Linked DNA regions of Homo sapiens. The protein of the gene in region 1 interacts with the protein of each later gene in a pairwise test. Each region holds a gene or a part of one and is shown on either strand. Other genes may lie near its edges.

Region 1 (7,210 bases):
GTCATCTACAAAAGAACAAAAATAAAAATAGCTTTATAGCTTTTAACTTCTTGATAGTAACACTAGAAGTTAGAAAACAACTGAGCAATGTTTTCCGAATTCTCAAGCAAAATAACTTCCACATTGAGCCAAACTATGAAGCAAGTCAGTAGAGTGAAGACATTTTCAAATATACAGTGTCAAAAAAAATTTACTTCCCTTGTACCCTGTTACAGGAAGGTACTGAGAGATGGGGATCCATCAAAACAAGGAAGCAAACCAAGAAAGAGGAGGCCATGAGATCTCTACAAAACAAGGGACCCCAAATCATACAAAAGGGGAGTGGGCAATTCCCTGGGTGACAAGGGCATTTCCATGATTAAAACTACATGGCAAGGCCGGCACAGTGGCTCACACTTGTAATCCCAGCACTACGGGAGGCTGAGGCGGGAAGATCATCTGAGGTCAGGAGTTTGAGACCAGCCTGGCCAACATGGTGAAACCCAGTCTCTGCTAAAAATACAAAAATTAGCCAGGCATGGTGGCGGGCGCCTATAATTCCAGCTACTCAGGAGGGTGAGGCAGGACAATCTATTGAACCCGGGAGGCGGAGGTTGCAGTGAGCTGAGATCGTACCACTACACTCCAGCCTGGGCGACAAGAGCAAGATTCTGTCTAAGAAGAACAAAAAACAAACAACAACAACAACAACAACAACAAAACCCACAAAAACTACATGGCAAACCTTTAAAGAGCAACCCATCCAGACAGAGAGTGGAGGTTGCTAAGAGGGATGTCTCTTTAACAAAAGTGTTAGGAATGACAGATTTCTTGATGTGACTGCTTTTGATAATGAGAGACTACTGGGAAGTGTGGACAGCAGCAGCAATAGATAAAATTAAGTAAATTAAAAACAAGGCAATTATTATTGAGGATAAAAATTTTTAAAAAGAAACAATCATAAAATACTGCAGTGCCAGGTGCAGTGGCTCATACCTGTAATCCCAGCACTTTGGGAGGCTGAGGTGGGCAGATCACTTGAGGTCAGGAGTTCGAGACCAGCCTGGCCAACATGGTGAAACCTCATCTCTACTATAAAAATGAAAATTAGGCGAGTGTGCTGGTGGGCGCCTGTAATCCCAGCTACTTGGGAGGCCGAGGCAGGAGAATCTCTTGAACCCGGGAGGCGGAGGCTATAGTGAGCTGAGATCGTGCCACTGCACTCCAGCCTGGGTGACAGAGCAAGACTCTGTCTCAAAACAAAACAAAACAAAACTGCAGTGCTCAGCTGTAATATCTGAATGCATATCATAATGTAAAAACTCATTTTGTATTTAACCAAAAATTGTAATATAACTCTAAAGGAAGAAGAATGTGGTAAGACAGAGAGGAAAGGTAATAAAAAATAATTAAATGCTCATTTATCATAATTTAGAACCAACAGACTCAGCACCATAAGACAGGGTGAATTTAATTTGTTTTAATAAAGTCAAAGTTTTTAAATTAGAACCAAGTGACATGTCTAAAATAAATGACTCAAAAGATAGAAGGTTTTTATTTTGAAAATGAAGAAATACAAATAACTAGAATTACAGTGAGAAGAACAGGAAGTAGTTATTTCTGGGAAGGGAGACTGTGAAACGGGGTAGGGCAGGGACTGCTATTTTACCTTCTAAGCCTTTTACTGCTACATGGCTCTTTAAACCACATGCATGTATTATTTGGATAGAAGAATTTAAATAAGCTTAACAATTTTTCTCCACTTAATATTTCAACAGTTTTTCCTATTATTGAACCATGAAAAATAATCATAAAATTTCAAATTCACGATTTCAGCTAAGAAAAAATAAAACCAATAAACTTATAAAACTAACTTAATTAGCAAACTAACTGATTCACTTCTGCAGTAAATGTATTTTCCTTTAGACCATGTGATTACAATCACCACTGTGCTCATCTGGATTAAGTGAGATGATTATCTTCAGAGCAATAACATGGAAAGCAAGGGAAGCACAGCAGTCCCTGCAGCCCTGCCATAGTGGCCATGAGGCCGTGGGGGTCCTCACCGGAGGGAAGCACCTCTGGGGAGCAGCTTCAGCACCACACTGTTTGAGGTAGTCAGCCCAGTCAAAGTCCTGGCTTGGGTAGCCTAGGTGGGGACAAATGAACAATGAGTCACACTACCACACCACATACGCCTGCCTGGCTTCACCCCTCACCAAGGGTCCACTCACAACTTCCAGTGATGCTAGTCTGACAACTTTGATCATTTTAGAGGGGCGAAAAGCATTCTATAAATCTAGAGCACTGTTAATTTTATAAAATAGAGCAACTCTGGTCAAACTGTAATAAGACAATCAGACTCTGGATAAATTTGTAAACTTTCAAATTTCAAACTAGGCATTTATTTTGAGCACTATTTTATATGATTAGTTGCTGGCAATTTACCAAAAGAATTTAAGACAGTTATGACTGGATTTGATTTGTATATATAAATCCACTCTTATTGTCAATTCTAAAGGGACTCGGGCTCTCAAGGAAAAGAGACAGCAAATAGTATTAGTTAATCTGCAAAGACGAAGACTTTTTTTCTTTGTTAAAGCTGTTTCCTGAAATGTGTCTCAGATATCACTGATACAAATCCTCTTGTCATTTTCAGATTCATATATTACAGAATATCAATGCTTTTATAATCTAAATCATGTATTTATTTCAGAAAAATCAAGCTTAGCACCCCACTTAAGTCTACTGAGGTTCTTGATGGAAGCATCTCCAAGCTGCTGCTGACTCAGCACCATCTACATGCAAAGAGCTGAGCGAGGCCCAACTGCCTACTGTGTCTGAGTTGCTCTCAGCCTCCAGAGAGCTTAATGTCTCACAGGCAAAAAAATAGGCTACTCAAGTCTATGCCCTCTGACAGCCCAACAGTCCCTGCCTACCGAAGACTGGCACCATGTTCTCCCTTTGCCCCAACCTCAATGCCTGACAGTACATTTTCTGCCATTTTCAGTTATGTAATCTACTACCTTCCCTCTATTTACAAAGACACAGTTGATTTGTCTATAACAACACTGAAAGCTTCAGTATTTTTAACAACTGTTCCTTCTTTTTCACATAGAGGTGGCAAGCAGAATAAAGAACTTGGGATATCTAGAGCGTGCCTGCAAAGCAAGAACTTCCTTCTATGGCTGTTCTACACCACACCCTCCAACCAGGCATTCATCTGCTGTGTTCACTGATGGAGGAGACTCTAGGAAGTTCTGTTAATATTTCCCCCTATTTGCCCCTTGAAGGGACCGAGTTGTACTCATTGAGCTTGTCACTCTCCCCAGGGATAAGCTCAATGCCTGGCTTACAGCAAACTTCACATGAATGTTTGTTGAATGAATAAAAGCTGAATGGAAGACAAAGGTTCTGAGTTTATGACCCTTGTTAACAAGAAAGAGTACTTCCAGCCCAGTGTTCCAGCAGTCACCATTTAGAAAAGTGATGCTATGCTTTACTGAAAACCTACTAATAACATATATAGACTGCCAATCAAATAATCTGATTTGCTAATATTAAAAAATCAGATAAACATCTGACATATTCTAGATTCTCTAAGTTTAAAAATATTAAAAATTTCAGTCAAGCTCAACTAACCCATTAATTAAGGGCCTTGATTAAAGGATCAAAGACTATATTTTGCAAAGTTGCAAATATCAGGAAAATGAGCTTTTATTTTCCTACCTACTCCCTGAGTTCTACTCTTCACCATAAACTTCTCTGTAGAAAGTCCCCTCCATGACAAGGCTCAGACACCTAAAGATAATCAGTAATCTACCTTCTAACTCTGGCTCTACGGCCTCTTCTCACAAGCCAGCCCCCAGTGCTTGCTGTGCATCCAAGCTCACCCCTCTGCCACCCCTAACAGACATAAAAGGGACTAAGGAGCCAGCACGAACCCAGGTTGGAACCTGGTTTTCCAGGGGGTTATGAGGACATAGATATCAAAGTCAGAGGATAGAACGCACTCTCTTTAACAGTTTTTTAGCTCAGTTTGTAACTTTCAAATATGTAAATACATGGAATCTAGACCTTTCCTTATACTTTTCTCAGACCCCAAAAACGTTAGGAACAGGCTAGGGCAGGAGGAGAGGGACAAAAGATTTCAGCAATGCCATCTGACATGTCTCATTTCAAGGAGAAGCTCTCAAGTGACAATTCAGAAGACAGCGAATGTGCACCTGGAGGGGGGCTGATGTGTAGGCCATTCTTCAGACTCCACTGCACAGGGAAGATGCCAGGACTGTCGGCGTGGCACACAAAGGATCGCCGTGCGTGGTTCTCAGGACGCAAGTCATCCATTTCCACCAGAAAGTACTTCTCATCAAAAACCTATACATGCAATTAATAGATGAAATAGACAAATGCACACATATATATGTGCTTTCTCCTTGGCACAGCCAAACATATTACAAAAGTTCATACTCATGTGGGTATTAATAATACTAAACACTAAATGTTAGCTCTGTGTTATGTAATACATATAATTACTGTTTTAATTAAATGCTTTTCATGTATCAATTCAGTTTTAATCTTAACAACTGAATGAGGTAAGTACATATACATATATATACATATATACATATATATACATATATACATATATATACATATATACATATATATACATATATATATATATATACACATATATACATATATACACACACACACATATATATATAGTTTGTTTGTTTTTTTTTGGAGACAGGGTCTTGCTCTCTTACCCAGGCTGGAGTGCAGTGGCATGAATTTGGCTCACCGAAGCACTGCAGTCTTGACTTCCTGGGCTCAGTTGATCCTCCCACTTCAGTCCCTTGAGTAGCTGGGACAACAGGCATGCACCACCATGCCCAGCTAATTTTTTTTAATTTTTGTAGAGACTCGGTCTCCATATATTGCCCAGGCTTGTCTCAAACTCCTGGGCTCAAGCAATCCTCCTGCCTCAGCCTCCCAAAGTGCTGGGATTACATGCATGAGCCACCACACCTGGCCCAAGTACCTTTATCAACTCCATTTCACAGATAAGGAGAATGAGTTCAAACAGAGGTTAAATAACTTGCCCTGGGTTACAAAACAAAGAAGAAGCAAAACCTGGATCCAAAGCCATGTAGTTTGGCTCCAAACAAAATTTATTCTAAGCTTAGTGACAAACTTAGTTTAAGCTTATGCTACTATGTATTAGTTTTTCAAATCCTAGCCCAGTTTCAAATGCCAAAGAACGAACTTTATTTATTTATTTATTTAGAGACGGAGTTTCGCTCTTGTTGCCCAGGCTGGAGTGCAATGGCACAATCTTGGCTCACCGTAACCTCCGCCTCCCGGGTTCAAGCGATTCTCTCACCTCAGCCTCCCGAGCAGCTGGGATTACAGGCATGCACCACCATGTCCAGCTAATTTTGTATTTTTAGTAGAGATGGGGTTTCTCCATGTTGGTCAGGCTGGTCTTGAACTCCTGACCTCAGGTGATCTGCCTGCCCCGGCGTCCCAAAGTGCTGGGATGACAGGCGTGAGCCACCACACCCGGCCAAAGAGATAACTTTATGAACTTCCTCTGGCTTCCCACTAGCCCTCCCTTCAGACTCTAGGTAGGGCCTTCTGGCCCCACCTGCAGGCTCAGAATCCCTCCTTGCTTTGAGAATAATCTTCTTCCAAGACAGGGAAAACTTAAATCTCAATAGGTCAGAGGATTTAGCACCCAGGCAACTATTCCTCTAGTCACATTCAACTTTGGCTTCTATTTTCAGTAAATGTCCTTCTGCTCTAGTTGGAAACTGAAATTCTCTCGCCAATGCCTCAGTTGTAGTGACTGAGCAGGGCCTTGATAACCTTACTTCTTAGTTTTGTCAGTATTCCAAAAGATTAAATCTGAATCTGGAATACATAGCTGGAGCCAGTCCACTGCCAGAACTTTTAACACTAACTGCCTGATCCCCATTCATCTCCTCATTCCAATGAGCTCTGCATCTGGTTAGACGTTGATGAGACTGCCTGCCTCCAACTTTACAGATACCCTGGCCTCCTAAAGGAGTTAAATCTCCTTTACTTATATGCAGCTAGGCCTGCCCCAAAGAATGCGTCCCCTACTAGTCCAGTGCCCAGGCCCAAGGCTGCTTTGGCTAGGGCTACCAAGCTCTGAAGGAGGAATGGGCCACAGCAAACTGGACAAATACAAAACGTGCACAGAAGTAATTCTAGCTGCACGGCCTAGAAGGAAAAATGGGTTGGATCAATAGAGCTTAAAGATCAAAACACTACCCATTTCCTAAACCAGTCACCTTGACAGGGATTCTTACCAAGAGAGTTATCTCCATTTTACCTTAACAACTGTAGCAGGAGAGATCCCAAAAGGAGACCAGGGGTCTACAGCTTCCAATTTCATGTTTACAGAGAATGTATGAATGCCAATAACTTGTTTGTCCTGAAATGCAGACACCAAAAGGGGATGAAAACATAGTATCTGTATCAATCTTACACTCACATGTAGCTGTGATTAACAGAAATGTCCAGCTCTGGTAAATCCTATAGTTTTCTTCTTTTTTTTAAATGTGCAAAACTATCCAATATAATTTTCTACTCTGGAAAAAACTATCCAGGAAAAAACAAAACACACAGAAGTGCTTCTACTCTCTACATTCAAAGACAAGGAATATCTGGAGAAAAAAACAAATTTATTTTATCAGTTAAGACTATGTAGTTAAGGGTAAAAAAGAAAAGGTTCAAACTACTTTAGGAGAACTTGGGGAGAAAATCTAGACAACTGTTAGAAGAAAACAAGGATGATCATCAGTCCAGCCTTAACACACCCTCCTCCTTCAGAGACCATGGCATTCTTACCGACTGCAGGGGCTGCTTTACACTTTCACCTCCTGCGTTGCTTTACTCTACTGTAAGGGGAGCAATACCGGTCTATCACATGTTTTGTTTTTACCTTAAATAAGTAAGATGGTAATGGCTCTTCCTCTTCCTCTTTCACTTTGGCCAAAATCTCTTGCCACTCAGCTTCATTTTTTAGATGTCTAATGGCTTTAATAAAACATGACAACATGCTTTAGATGATGAGAAACTTATACTTTTTACCTGTCCTGAAAGCATTCACATAAACAAAAACAAGTCACTTTCCACTGGAACTAGAAAAGGGTTCAAGCCCACTTATATCCCTTTACATTCAAAGAACTTGCACCTT
Region 2 (7,000 bases), on another chromosome or scaffold:
CAAACATTTTTTTGCTTACATTCCTAATAAAATAATTTCTGGAAAACTCATACTTGCAATTCTAAGTTTTAATATTTGCAAAGGGCATATTATATACATATTATAAAAAGTTCTACAATAATTTAATACCTATTATTCACATAAGAACATATGAACATTTTTAACAGCTGATACTTTTTCTTTTTTTTGAGGTGGAGGCTCGTTCTGTCGCCCAGGTGGGAGTGCTGTTGCATGATCTTGGCTTACTTCAACCTCTGCCTCCTGGGTTCAAGCAATTTTCCTGTCTCAGCCTCCTGAGTAGCTGGGATTACAGGTGCCCGCCACCATGCCTGGCTAATTTTTGTACTTTTAGTAGAGATGGCGTTTCACCATGTTGGTCAGGCTGGTCTCGAACTCTTGACCTCAGGCGATCCACCCACTTCGGCCTCCCAAAGTGTTGGGATTACAGGTGTGAGCCACCACGCCCGGCCTTTTTTTAAGAAACAGGGTCTTGGCAGATACTACTTAGCCCAGGGCCTGGTGGCTAGGCTGGTTGTCTCCTTTCCAGTTGGAGGCTTCTGCTGCAAACATTCTCCGCCAGATCATGGGTCAGGCCAAGAAGCATGCGAAGTTGATCCCCCTTTTTGTATTTATTGGAACTGGAGGTATTGGAGCAGCACTGTTTCTCTCGCCTCTGACATTGTTCAATCCAGATGTTTGTTGGGACAGAAAGACTAACCCAGAGCCCTGAACAAACTGGGTCCCAATGATCAATACAAGTTCTACTCAGTGAATGTGGATTACAGCAAATTGAAGAAAGAAGGTTCAGATTTCTAAATGAAATGTTTTACTATAAAGCTCCTTTAGAATGAAGGTCTTCCAGAAGCCATCCGCACAATTTTCCACTTAACAGGAAATATTTCTCCTCTAAATGCATGAAATCATGTTGAGGTAATCTACTGGAGATTACACTGATTAATAAATAACTGAAAGTTGAAAAAAAACCCAAAAAACCCAGCATCTTGCTATGTTGCCTAGGCTGTTCTTAGACTTCTGGCCCCAAGTGATCCTCTTGTCTTGGCCTCCCAAAGTGCTGGGATTACAGGCATGAGCCACAGCATTTGGCTGATAGTATAAATTTTAATAACTATTACATTAAAACAAACTTATTGGTAATGTGTATATATATATATTTTTGGCGAGATACAGTCTCACTGTATCACCCAGGCTGGAGTGCAGTGGTGTGATTTCAGCTCCCTGCAACTTCTGCCTCCTGGGTTCAAGTGATCCTCCTGCCTCAGCTTCCCAAGTAGCTGCGATTACAGGGTGCACCACCGCACCTAGCTAATTTTTGTATTTTTAGTAGAGACAGGGTTTTGCCATGTTGGCCAGGATGGTCTCGAACTCCTGACCTCGAGTGATCCACCCACCTCGGCCTCCCATAGTGCTGGAATTACAGGCATGAACCACTGTGCCCAGTCCGGAAATGCATTTCTTAATGACAGATTTTTTTCTAGTTTATGTATCTATAAATAAATATTTCTTCATGGTAGAATGTGACCAGGTTTGGCATCAATTAAATTCCTATTTTTAAATTTTATTTTTTCAATAGAGATGGCTCCTTGGGAATTATTTCTTATTTTTAATTTCTTTTTTTTTTTTTGAGATGGAGTTTCGCTCTCGTTGCCTAGGCTGAAGTGCAATGGTGCAGTCTCGGCTCACCACAACCTCCGCCTCCCGGGTTCAAGTGATTCTCCTGCCTCAGCCTCCCAAGCAGCTGGGATTATGGGCATGCGCCACCACGTCTGGATAATTTTGTATTTTTAGTAGAGACGGGGTTTCTCCATGTTGGTCATGTTAGTCTCAAACTCCCAACCTCAGGTGATCCACCCGCCTTGGCCTCCCAAAGTGCTGGGATTACAGGCATGAGCCACCGCGCCCGGCTTAGTTCTTATTTTATTTTTATTTTTATTTTCTGAGACGGAGTCTCGCTCTGTCACCCGGGCTAGAGTGCAGTGGCGCGATCTCGGCTCCCTTGCAAGCTCCGCCTTCCGGGTTCACGCCATTCTCCTGGCTCAGCCTCCCGAATAGCTGGGACTACAGGTGCCCACCACCACGCCCGGCTGATTTTTTGTATCTTTTTAGTAGAGACAGGGTTTCACTGTGTTAGCCAGGAAGATCTCCATCTCCTGACCTCGTGATCTGCCTGCCTCGGCCTCCCAAAGTGCTGGGATTACAGGTGTAAGCCACCGTGCCCGGCTTAATTCTTAAGTGTTACATATTTAACCTAGAGAAACCCTAACCTAAATAGATTGATTGGAATGGAAAGACTTTTGTTATTTCCATGTCACTCGATTCTCTGCATTCCATCTGTTATATGCCACAAGTCACATAATAATATTCCATTAAAATATGCTTTTTAATTGACAATTCAATTAGGTCATCTTCAATTTTGTTGAGGGAAAAACCTTAAAAAAGAATTTACTCTCAGCTGGGTGCGGTGGCTCACGCCTGTAATCCCAGCACTTTGGGAGGCCGAGGCGGGCAGATCATGAGGTCAGGAGATCGAGACCATCCTGGCTAACATGGTGAAACCCAGTCTCTACTAAAAATACAAAAAATTAGCCAGGTGTTGTTGCACGCACCTATACTCCCAGCTACTCCGGAGGCTGAGGCACAATCACATGAACCTGGGAAGCAGAGGTCGAAGTGAGCTGAGATCGCACCACTGCACTCCAGCCTGGGTGACAGAGCAAGACTCTGTCTCAAAAAAAAAATTTTTTACTCTAAAAAATTATGGCCAGCTGGGCATGGTGGCTCATGCCTATAATCCCAGCACTTTGGGAGGCTGAGGTGGGTGGATTGCTAGAGCTCAGGAGTTTGAGACCACCCTGGGCAACATGGCAAAATCCCATCTCTACCAAAAATACAAAAAATTAGCCAGGCGTGGTGGTGTGCATCTGAAGTCTCAGCTACTGGGGAGGCTGAGGTGGGAGAATTACTTGAACCCAGGAGGTGGAGGTTGCAGTGAGCTGAGACTGCACTCCAGATTGGATGACACAGTGAGACTCTGTCTCAAAACAAACAAACAAAACTATTATGACCATTCACTTTCTCAGCACAAACACCACTATTCTGCCATCTAGGTTTTTATACGTGAGGACAATACACTAAGGTATGTTAGAGATGGGTGAGAGGTATACCTTTCTTTTGTGAGATTAGAGAAGCGTTGTTAGAAAAGGGGAAGTAGAAAAGGAGACCAGTAGGCAAGTTCTCATCAGATTTGTTTTAGGAAGAATTGTATATGAATGTTGATAATCTAGAAATTGGTTATCTATTCCTGCATAACGCTTGAAGAACTTTCACGTCACAAATTGGAAGACTGTTGCCTTGAAAGTCTAAATATTTAAGACACTATTATACAGCTAACAGCCCTTAGGAAGATGCTGCTTTTTTTTTTTTTTTTTTTTTTTTGAGACAGAGTCTCCCTCTGTTGCCCAGTCGGGAATGCAGTGGCACAATCTCAGCTCACCAAAACTTCCACCTCCCAGGTTCAAGTGATTCTCTTGCCTCAGCCTCCTGAGTAGCTGGGATTACAGGTACCTGCCACTATGCCCGGCTAATTTTTGTATTTTTAGTAGGGATGGAATTTCACCATGTTGGCCAGGCGTCGGCCTCCCAAAGTGTTGGGATTATAGGTGTGAGCCACCCCGCCCAGCCAATTCTTCTTTTTATAAACATAAATCATAGCATATTATATATTCTGTTCTCTACCTTAATTAATATACCTGGTACTTCTTGGATAGCTTTCCATGTCAGCTCATATAATCTATCGGTTAATTCAATTGTCATTTCATTGACAGTTGAGGCAAAAAAGCAAAATGATTAAGACCATGAATCTGGGGGACAGGCTGCATGATTTAACACTTACTTTTTCTTCTTACTAGCTGTATGACAATGAGTAAGTTATTCAACATCTCCTTGCTTTAGTTTCTTCATATGTAAAATGAAGACAATAATACTACCTACCTTAATAGTGTAGATATCAGGTTTAAATAAGCTAATACTTATAAAGACCCTAGAATAGTACTTGGCACACAGTAAGCATCTATTAAACATTAGTAACATTATAATTAAAATCTGGAGAACCACCATGAAACGTTTGGTCCTTTAATAAATTCTATATACACATTAAAAAAATATTCCTTTGGATACCACATGTAAACCTACCTTTGTTGCAATAATAATCTGTTTTCTTTTTCTTTTAAAGCTTTCTTTAGTTCTGCTGTCCTTGAGGGCCTATGTAGGTATTTTCTTTTTCCTGTGCATTCATAAGTCCAATGTCCAAATTCCAAGCATTTCTGACATCTTACATGTTGCTTATTTGCTTCACTACAGAACAAAAAACAGAATACAAGCCTTAAAATTCTGTCTTGTGACTTTCACCCTAAAAACTATAAAAAAATATAAAGGATAAAATTATGTTTACTCTTATGGTCCAATTCATAAAAATCAACATTTTACCCTTGTGAGATTTAATACAACAAAGTATAATAAGTGTAATGACATGGTTTGGCTGTGTCCCCATCTAAATCTCATCTTGAATTCCCACATGTTGTGGGAGAAACCTGGTGGGAGGTAACTTAATCATAGGGGCAAGTCTTTCCTGTGCTGTTCTTGTGATAGTGAATAAATCTCACAAGATCTGATGGTTTTAAAAATAGGAGTTTCCGGCTGGGTGTGGTGGCTCACACCTATAATCCCAGCACTTTGGGAGGCTAAGGCAGGCGGATTACGAGGTCAGGAGATTGAGACCATCCTGGCTAACATGGTGAAACCCCATCTCCACTAAAAATACAAAAAAATTAGCCAAGCGTGGTGGTGGGCGCCTGTAGTCCCAGCTACTCAGGAGGCTGAGGCAGGAGAATGGTATGAACCCGGGAGGCAGAGCTTGCAGTGAGCCAAGGTTGCACCACTGCACTCCAGCCTGGGCAACAGAGCGAGACTCCGTCTCACAAAAAAAAAAAAAAACAAAAAACCACAGGAGTTTCCCTGCACAGTCTCTCTCTCTTTTCTTGCTGCCGTCCATGTAAGATGTGACTTGTTCCTCCTTGCCTTCTGCCATGATTGTGAGGCCTCCCCAGACATGCTGAACTGTGATTCCAATAAACTTTTTTGTTGTGTAAATTGCCCAGTCTTGGGTATGTCTTTATCAGCAGTGTGAAAATGGATTAATACATATAATAAATGGTTAAAAGCATAGACCTTGAAGTTAAGATACAGTTGAATTCAAATCTTGGCTCCTCAATTCTGTTCCAGTTATGTGAGACTAGGGCATTCAGACTACTTTCCAGCTCAGAACTAGAAAAGACCGTCAAAACATTTTTAACAAGCTTCTTTAAGAATCGGAAAATCAGCCAGGTGTGGTGGCTCACACCTGTAATCCCAGCACTTTGGGAGGCTAAGGCAGGCGGATCACGAGGTCAGGAGATCGAGACCATCCTGGCTAACACGGTGAAACCCTGTCTCTACTAAAAATATAAAAAATTAGCCGGGCGTGGTGGTGGGTGCCTGTAGTCCCAGCTACTGGGGAGACTGAGGCAGGAGAATGGTGTGAACCTGGGAGGCAAAGCTTGCAGTGAGCCGAGATTGCGCCACTGCACTCCAGTCTGGGTGACAGAGTGAGACTCTGTCTCAAAAAAAAAAAAAAAAAAAGAATCAGAAAATCAGGCCGGGAGCAGTGGCTCACGCCTGTAATCCCAGCACTTTGGGAGGCTGAGGCAGGTGGATCAGGAGGTCAGGAGTTTGAGACCAGCCTGGCCAACATGGTGAAACCCTGTCTCTACTAAAAATACAAAAATTAGCTGGGCGTGGTGGTGGGCACCTGTAATCCCAGCTACATGGGAGGCTGAGGCAGGAGAATCATTTGAACCTGGGAGGCGGAGGTTGCAGTGAGCCGAGATTGCGCCATCGTACTCCAGCCTGGGCAACAGGGTGAGACTCCATCTCAAAAAAAAAAAAAAAAAATCAGAGAATCAACAAGGGGGTCAAGCTGACCAGCTGAAATGGCTCAGGTCTGTAATCCCAGCATTTTGGGAGGCCACGGTGGAAAGATTGCTTGAGGCCAGGAATTTGAGACCAGCCAGGCAGGACAACACAGCAAGACTCAATCTCTACAACAAATTTTGAAAAATTAGCCAGGGCCAGGCCTGGTGGTTCACGCTTGTAATCCCAGCACTTTGGGAGGCCAAGGGAGGCAGATAACTTGAGCTCAGAAGTTTGAGACTAGCCTGGGCAACATGGTGAAACCCTGTCTCTAAAAAAAACTACAAAAATTAGCCGCGTGTGGTGGCAAACAGCTGTAGTCCCAGCTACTTGGGAAGCTGAGATAGGAGGTGCAATTGAGCCCAGGAGTTTGAGGCTACAGTAAGCTATGATTGCACCACTGCACTTCAACTTGGGTGACAGAGGGAGATTCTCTTTTTTTTTTTTTTTAAAGATGAAGTCTCACTCTGTTGCCCAGGCCAAGAGTGCAGTGGCACGATCTCGGCTCACCACAAGCCTCCCAGGTTCAAGCAATTCTCCTGCCTCAGCCTCCTGAGTAGTTGAGACTACAGGCATGCACTATCACGCCCGGCTAATTTTTGTATTTTTTGTAGAGGTGGGGTTTTGCCATGTTGGCCAGGCTGGTCTCAAACTCCTGGCCTCAAGTGATCCACCTACTTCGGCCTCCCAAAGTGCTGGGATTACGGGCATGAGCCACTGCACCCTGCCTGATTCTGTCTCTTAAAAAAAACCAAAAAAGATGGCCAGGTGCGGTGGCTCATTCCCATAATCCCAGCACTTTGTGGGGCTGAGGTGGGCGGATTGCTTGAGGTCAGAAATTCGAGACCAGCGTGGCCAACATGGTGAAACCCGTCTCTACTAAAACAAAAATTGCCAGGCTTGGTGGCACACACCTGTAATCTCAGCTACTCAGGAAGCTGAGGCAGGAGAATTGTTTGAACTTAAGGAGGCAGAG
Region 3 (2,703 bases), on another chromosome or scaffold:
CCTCTGTCTAGACCTAGGCACCCTACTGCAGGGAAGAACAGAGGGAAATTACTGTGTTCCTCCCTTGCATCATATTTTAAAGCGGCCAAACTAAGGTGACATTCTCAGTGGCTGAGGGAGGAGAGCTACCCCCAGGAGGTGCAGGAAGACCTACCTTCCCTCCTATTCTCTAGTCAATGAGGAGGTTTCAGGACCTCATTGCTCCCCAGACCCTGTGCCCTCTCCAAACAACCCACATTTCCTTCCCTCCCCGCTCGTTTTCCAGTTCTCCTGTTGGAAGGCTCTTGATCAGTTTAACCAGTAGTCTTGGGACCTGGGGTCTGGGACTGGCTCTCAGCTCCACCTCTAGAGAGCTCTGCAGGGGACCTTGCCCTGCAGGGTGTAAGGAGAAACCTCCTGGACTCAGCAATCTTTTTTTTTCCAAGCCTTTCTCCCGACAACTGGGATCTCTACCTATGGTCAGGCCCAGAGAGCCAACACAGAATAAGACACAGGAGAGATTTATTTTCTAGAGTGATATATATTTTTTGTTCTTTTTCTTTTTTTCTTCCAAAACAAACAATTAGAGCTCTAGGCCCCTCGCCCTCCCCACTCCCACCCAGAACCCTCCCATATAATCGACAACTGAAAACAAGCGAGACAATCACCCCCAAAGAAATCACGAAACACAAGCACAATTTCACGACAGCCACCGACAAAGCAAAAAACTTCTACTGGAATGTCCCCTTGCAGGATCAGGAGAAGCAGGAGCAAGAGTCTACAAATTGAAGGGGACTGAGAAGTAGGGGAGCAGGGGGAGGAACGGAAGCAGAGAGTAAGCTTCCATCTGATGCTTAGGTGCCATTTTGCCCCTTTCCTTTGCACGCGGGACTGTTTCCCAGAAGCGCGCGCACGCACCAGCCACGCAGATCTGCATCCAGGCCCATGAAGCAGGAGGCCAAGCCCGGCCCTGGGGCGGGTCTCCTTTGGCGCTGGGGCTAGAGCCGCCAAGCCCGGGGCTTCTCTGCGTGGGTCGAGAAGCCGACGGGATTCGGAGGAACGCGCAGAGCGTTGCGCGCTGGGGCCGTTGCTCCTCCCTGTCCCAGACCACTTGTCCCGGAAGGGAGCTTGGGAATCGATTCACAATAAATTCTCATTCGGACTCTCCTGGCCTGGCTTTCCTGTCTACAGTGGGGTTGACCTAGCGGGGAACGGAAGGTGGAGGGATTTTTCTACAAGGGGCGGCTTGACTTGCGGGTGCAAGGTGGATACGACCGAAGAGAGTTGATTTCAGAGCTAGGGAGGGTGCGGAAGAATGCAGGGCCGGTCGAGAGCAAGAGAAGCTACAGTCTGTCAAGTGGTGCACAGATGAACAGGAGGACAACATTGTCAAGGCTCTACGACCCACAGTTTGACCTTCTTTTGTTGGAAGGAGAGGGAAACATCATGCGGAATTAAACATTTCCTGCAACAAAATGTATATGTTGGTGGGAGGTGGGGAGTAGCTCCACCTAAGATAGCTTCATAAAACCACGTGCTGCCTTTTCTTGTACTTTCTAGCCCACCGGCTTGGGGGCTAGGTTTGCTCCATCTTCCCCATGGCCCTTGGCCTGAGAATAGTTGGCAACTCCATGGGAATGGTATGGCAATGCTGCAGCCTTTGGGCTGCAACACCTCACTCAGGAGTCTGCCTCTAGACATCTCCCTGGTGGGTATTTGCATTAGGGGTAGAACCCGGGCTTGCCTGACAGTCTGAGGGCTGTTTTGCCAAATTTGGTGTGCGATGGTCTGCAACTGGAGTGTCACCTCACTTGACTGAATGGTGGTTGTGAGCTCACCCCATTACTGTGTGTGGATGTCTGCTGAGCTGTGTAGAGTTGGAGTGTCCCTGGGTGACTTTTGGGTGGGTGTAGAGAAGAAACAGGCAAGCTGGAAGTGAGGGGCTAGGACTTCCCAGAAAAATTACAGGGCATACTAGGAGCTTGACTGGGGTCTCTCTTTCCTTGTGGCCCATCACATTCTTAGGAACCAACTATTTCTATCTTCTAAATCAACAAAACTTTCTCCTGACACCTAGAGAGAAGAGAGAGACAGGTAAGGGCAAAGGAAAGGAGGGAGGTTCTAGGTGCAGATAAAGGACTTGGAAGAGAGACTCCCTTCCCCATTCACTTGAATACATCCCAGACAGCACTGGCTTTGCAGTCGTCACATAACTAAGAGTGAGATGGGGAAGAGCTAGGGAGGACTGGGGGTAATCTTTAATCTTTACTCTTTGCCCTGCTCCTTATTCATTTTCTTCATTTTCATCCGCCGGTTCTGAAACCAGATTTTGACTTGTCTCTCACTCAGATTGAGGAGTCTGGCCACTTCGTGCCTACGGTCCCTGGTGAGGTACATATTGAACAGAAACTCCTTCTCTAGCTCCAGCGTCTGGTATTTGGTGTAGGGACAGCGCTTTTTCCGGGAAGAGCGAGCGTGCAGCCAGTTGGCGGAGGGGTTGGCTGAAAGAGAAGCAGCGATAGAATCAAAGAAAGGAAGGGGGTGAAGGGCCCCAGATCAAGAGGGCACTCCCTTGGTCTCCACTCCCCATCTTGCACTGGAGAAGAGGCCACCTGGGTCTTCAAGCTCCCAGGAAGGGTGTCACAGATGGGCCAGCCATTGCTATAGACACCTCCAGGTGAGAGGCTGTGTGGAAAGGATGGAGCCAAACGTGGGCCCAGGCTT

What was found. Proteins that work in one complex are often made in the same cells at the same time.
Region 2: the proteins of SFMBT1 (region 1) and ZCCHC10 interact in binary tests that used the Homo sapiens proteins (3 or more experiments, as listed by UniProt).
Region 3: the proteins of SFMBT1 (region 1) and HOXB9 interact in binary tests that used the Homo sapiens proteins (3 or more experiments, as listed by UniProt).

The regions. Positions count from the first base shown.
Region 1 is NC_000003.12:52,923,986-52,931,195, forward strand, and holds part of SFMBT1 (scm-like with four MBT domains protein 1), read right to left. Parts: intron 7,051-7,210; coding exon 6,956-7,050; intron 6,446-6,955; coding exon 6,344-6,445; intron 4,357-6,343; coding exon 4,206-4,356; intron 2,129-4,205; coding exon 2,046-2,128; intron 1-2,045. UniProt on the Homo sapiens protein: Histone-binding protein, which is part of various corepressor complexes. Mediates the recruitment of corepressor complexes to target genes, followed by chromatin compaction and repression of transcription.
Region 2 is NC_000005.10:133,002,550-133,009,549, forward strand, and holds part of ZCCHC10 (zinc finger CCHC domain-containing protein 10), read right to left. Parts: intron 4,372-7,000; coding exon 4,210-4,371; intron 817-4,209; exon of another isoform or gene 548-816; intron 1-547.
Region 3 is NC_000017.11:48,620,656-48,623,358, forward strand, and holds the end of HOXB9 (homeobox protein Hox-B9), read right to left. Parts: intron 2,481-2,703; coding exon 2,245-2,480; 3' UTR 501-2,244; downstream 1-500. UniProt on the Homo sapiens protein: Sequence-specific transcription factor which is part of a developmental regulatory system that provides cells with specific positional identities on the anterior-posterior axis.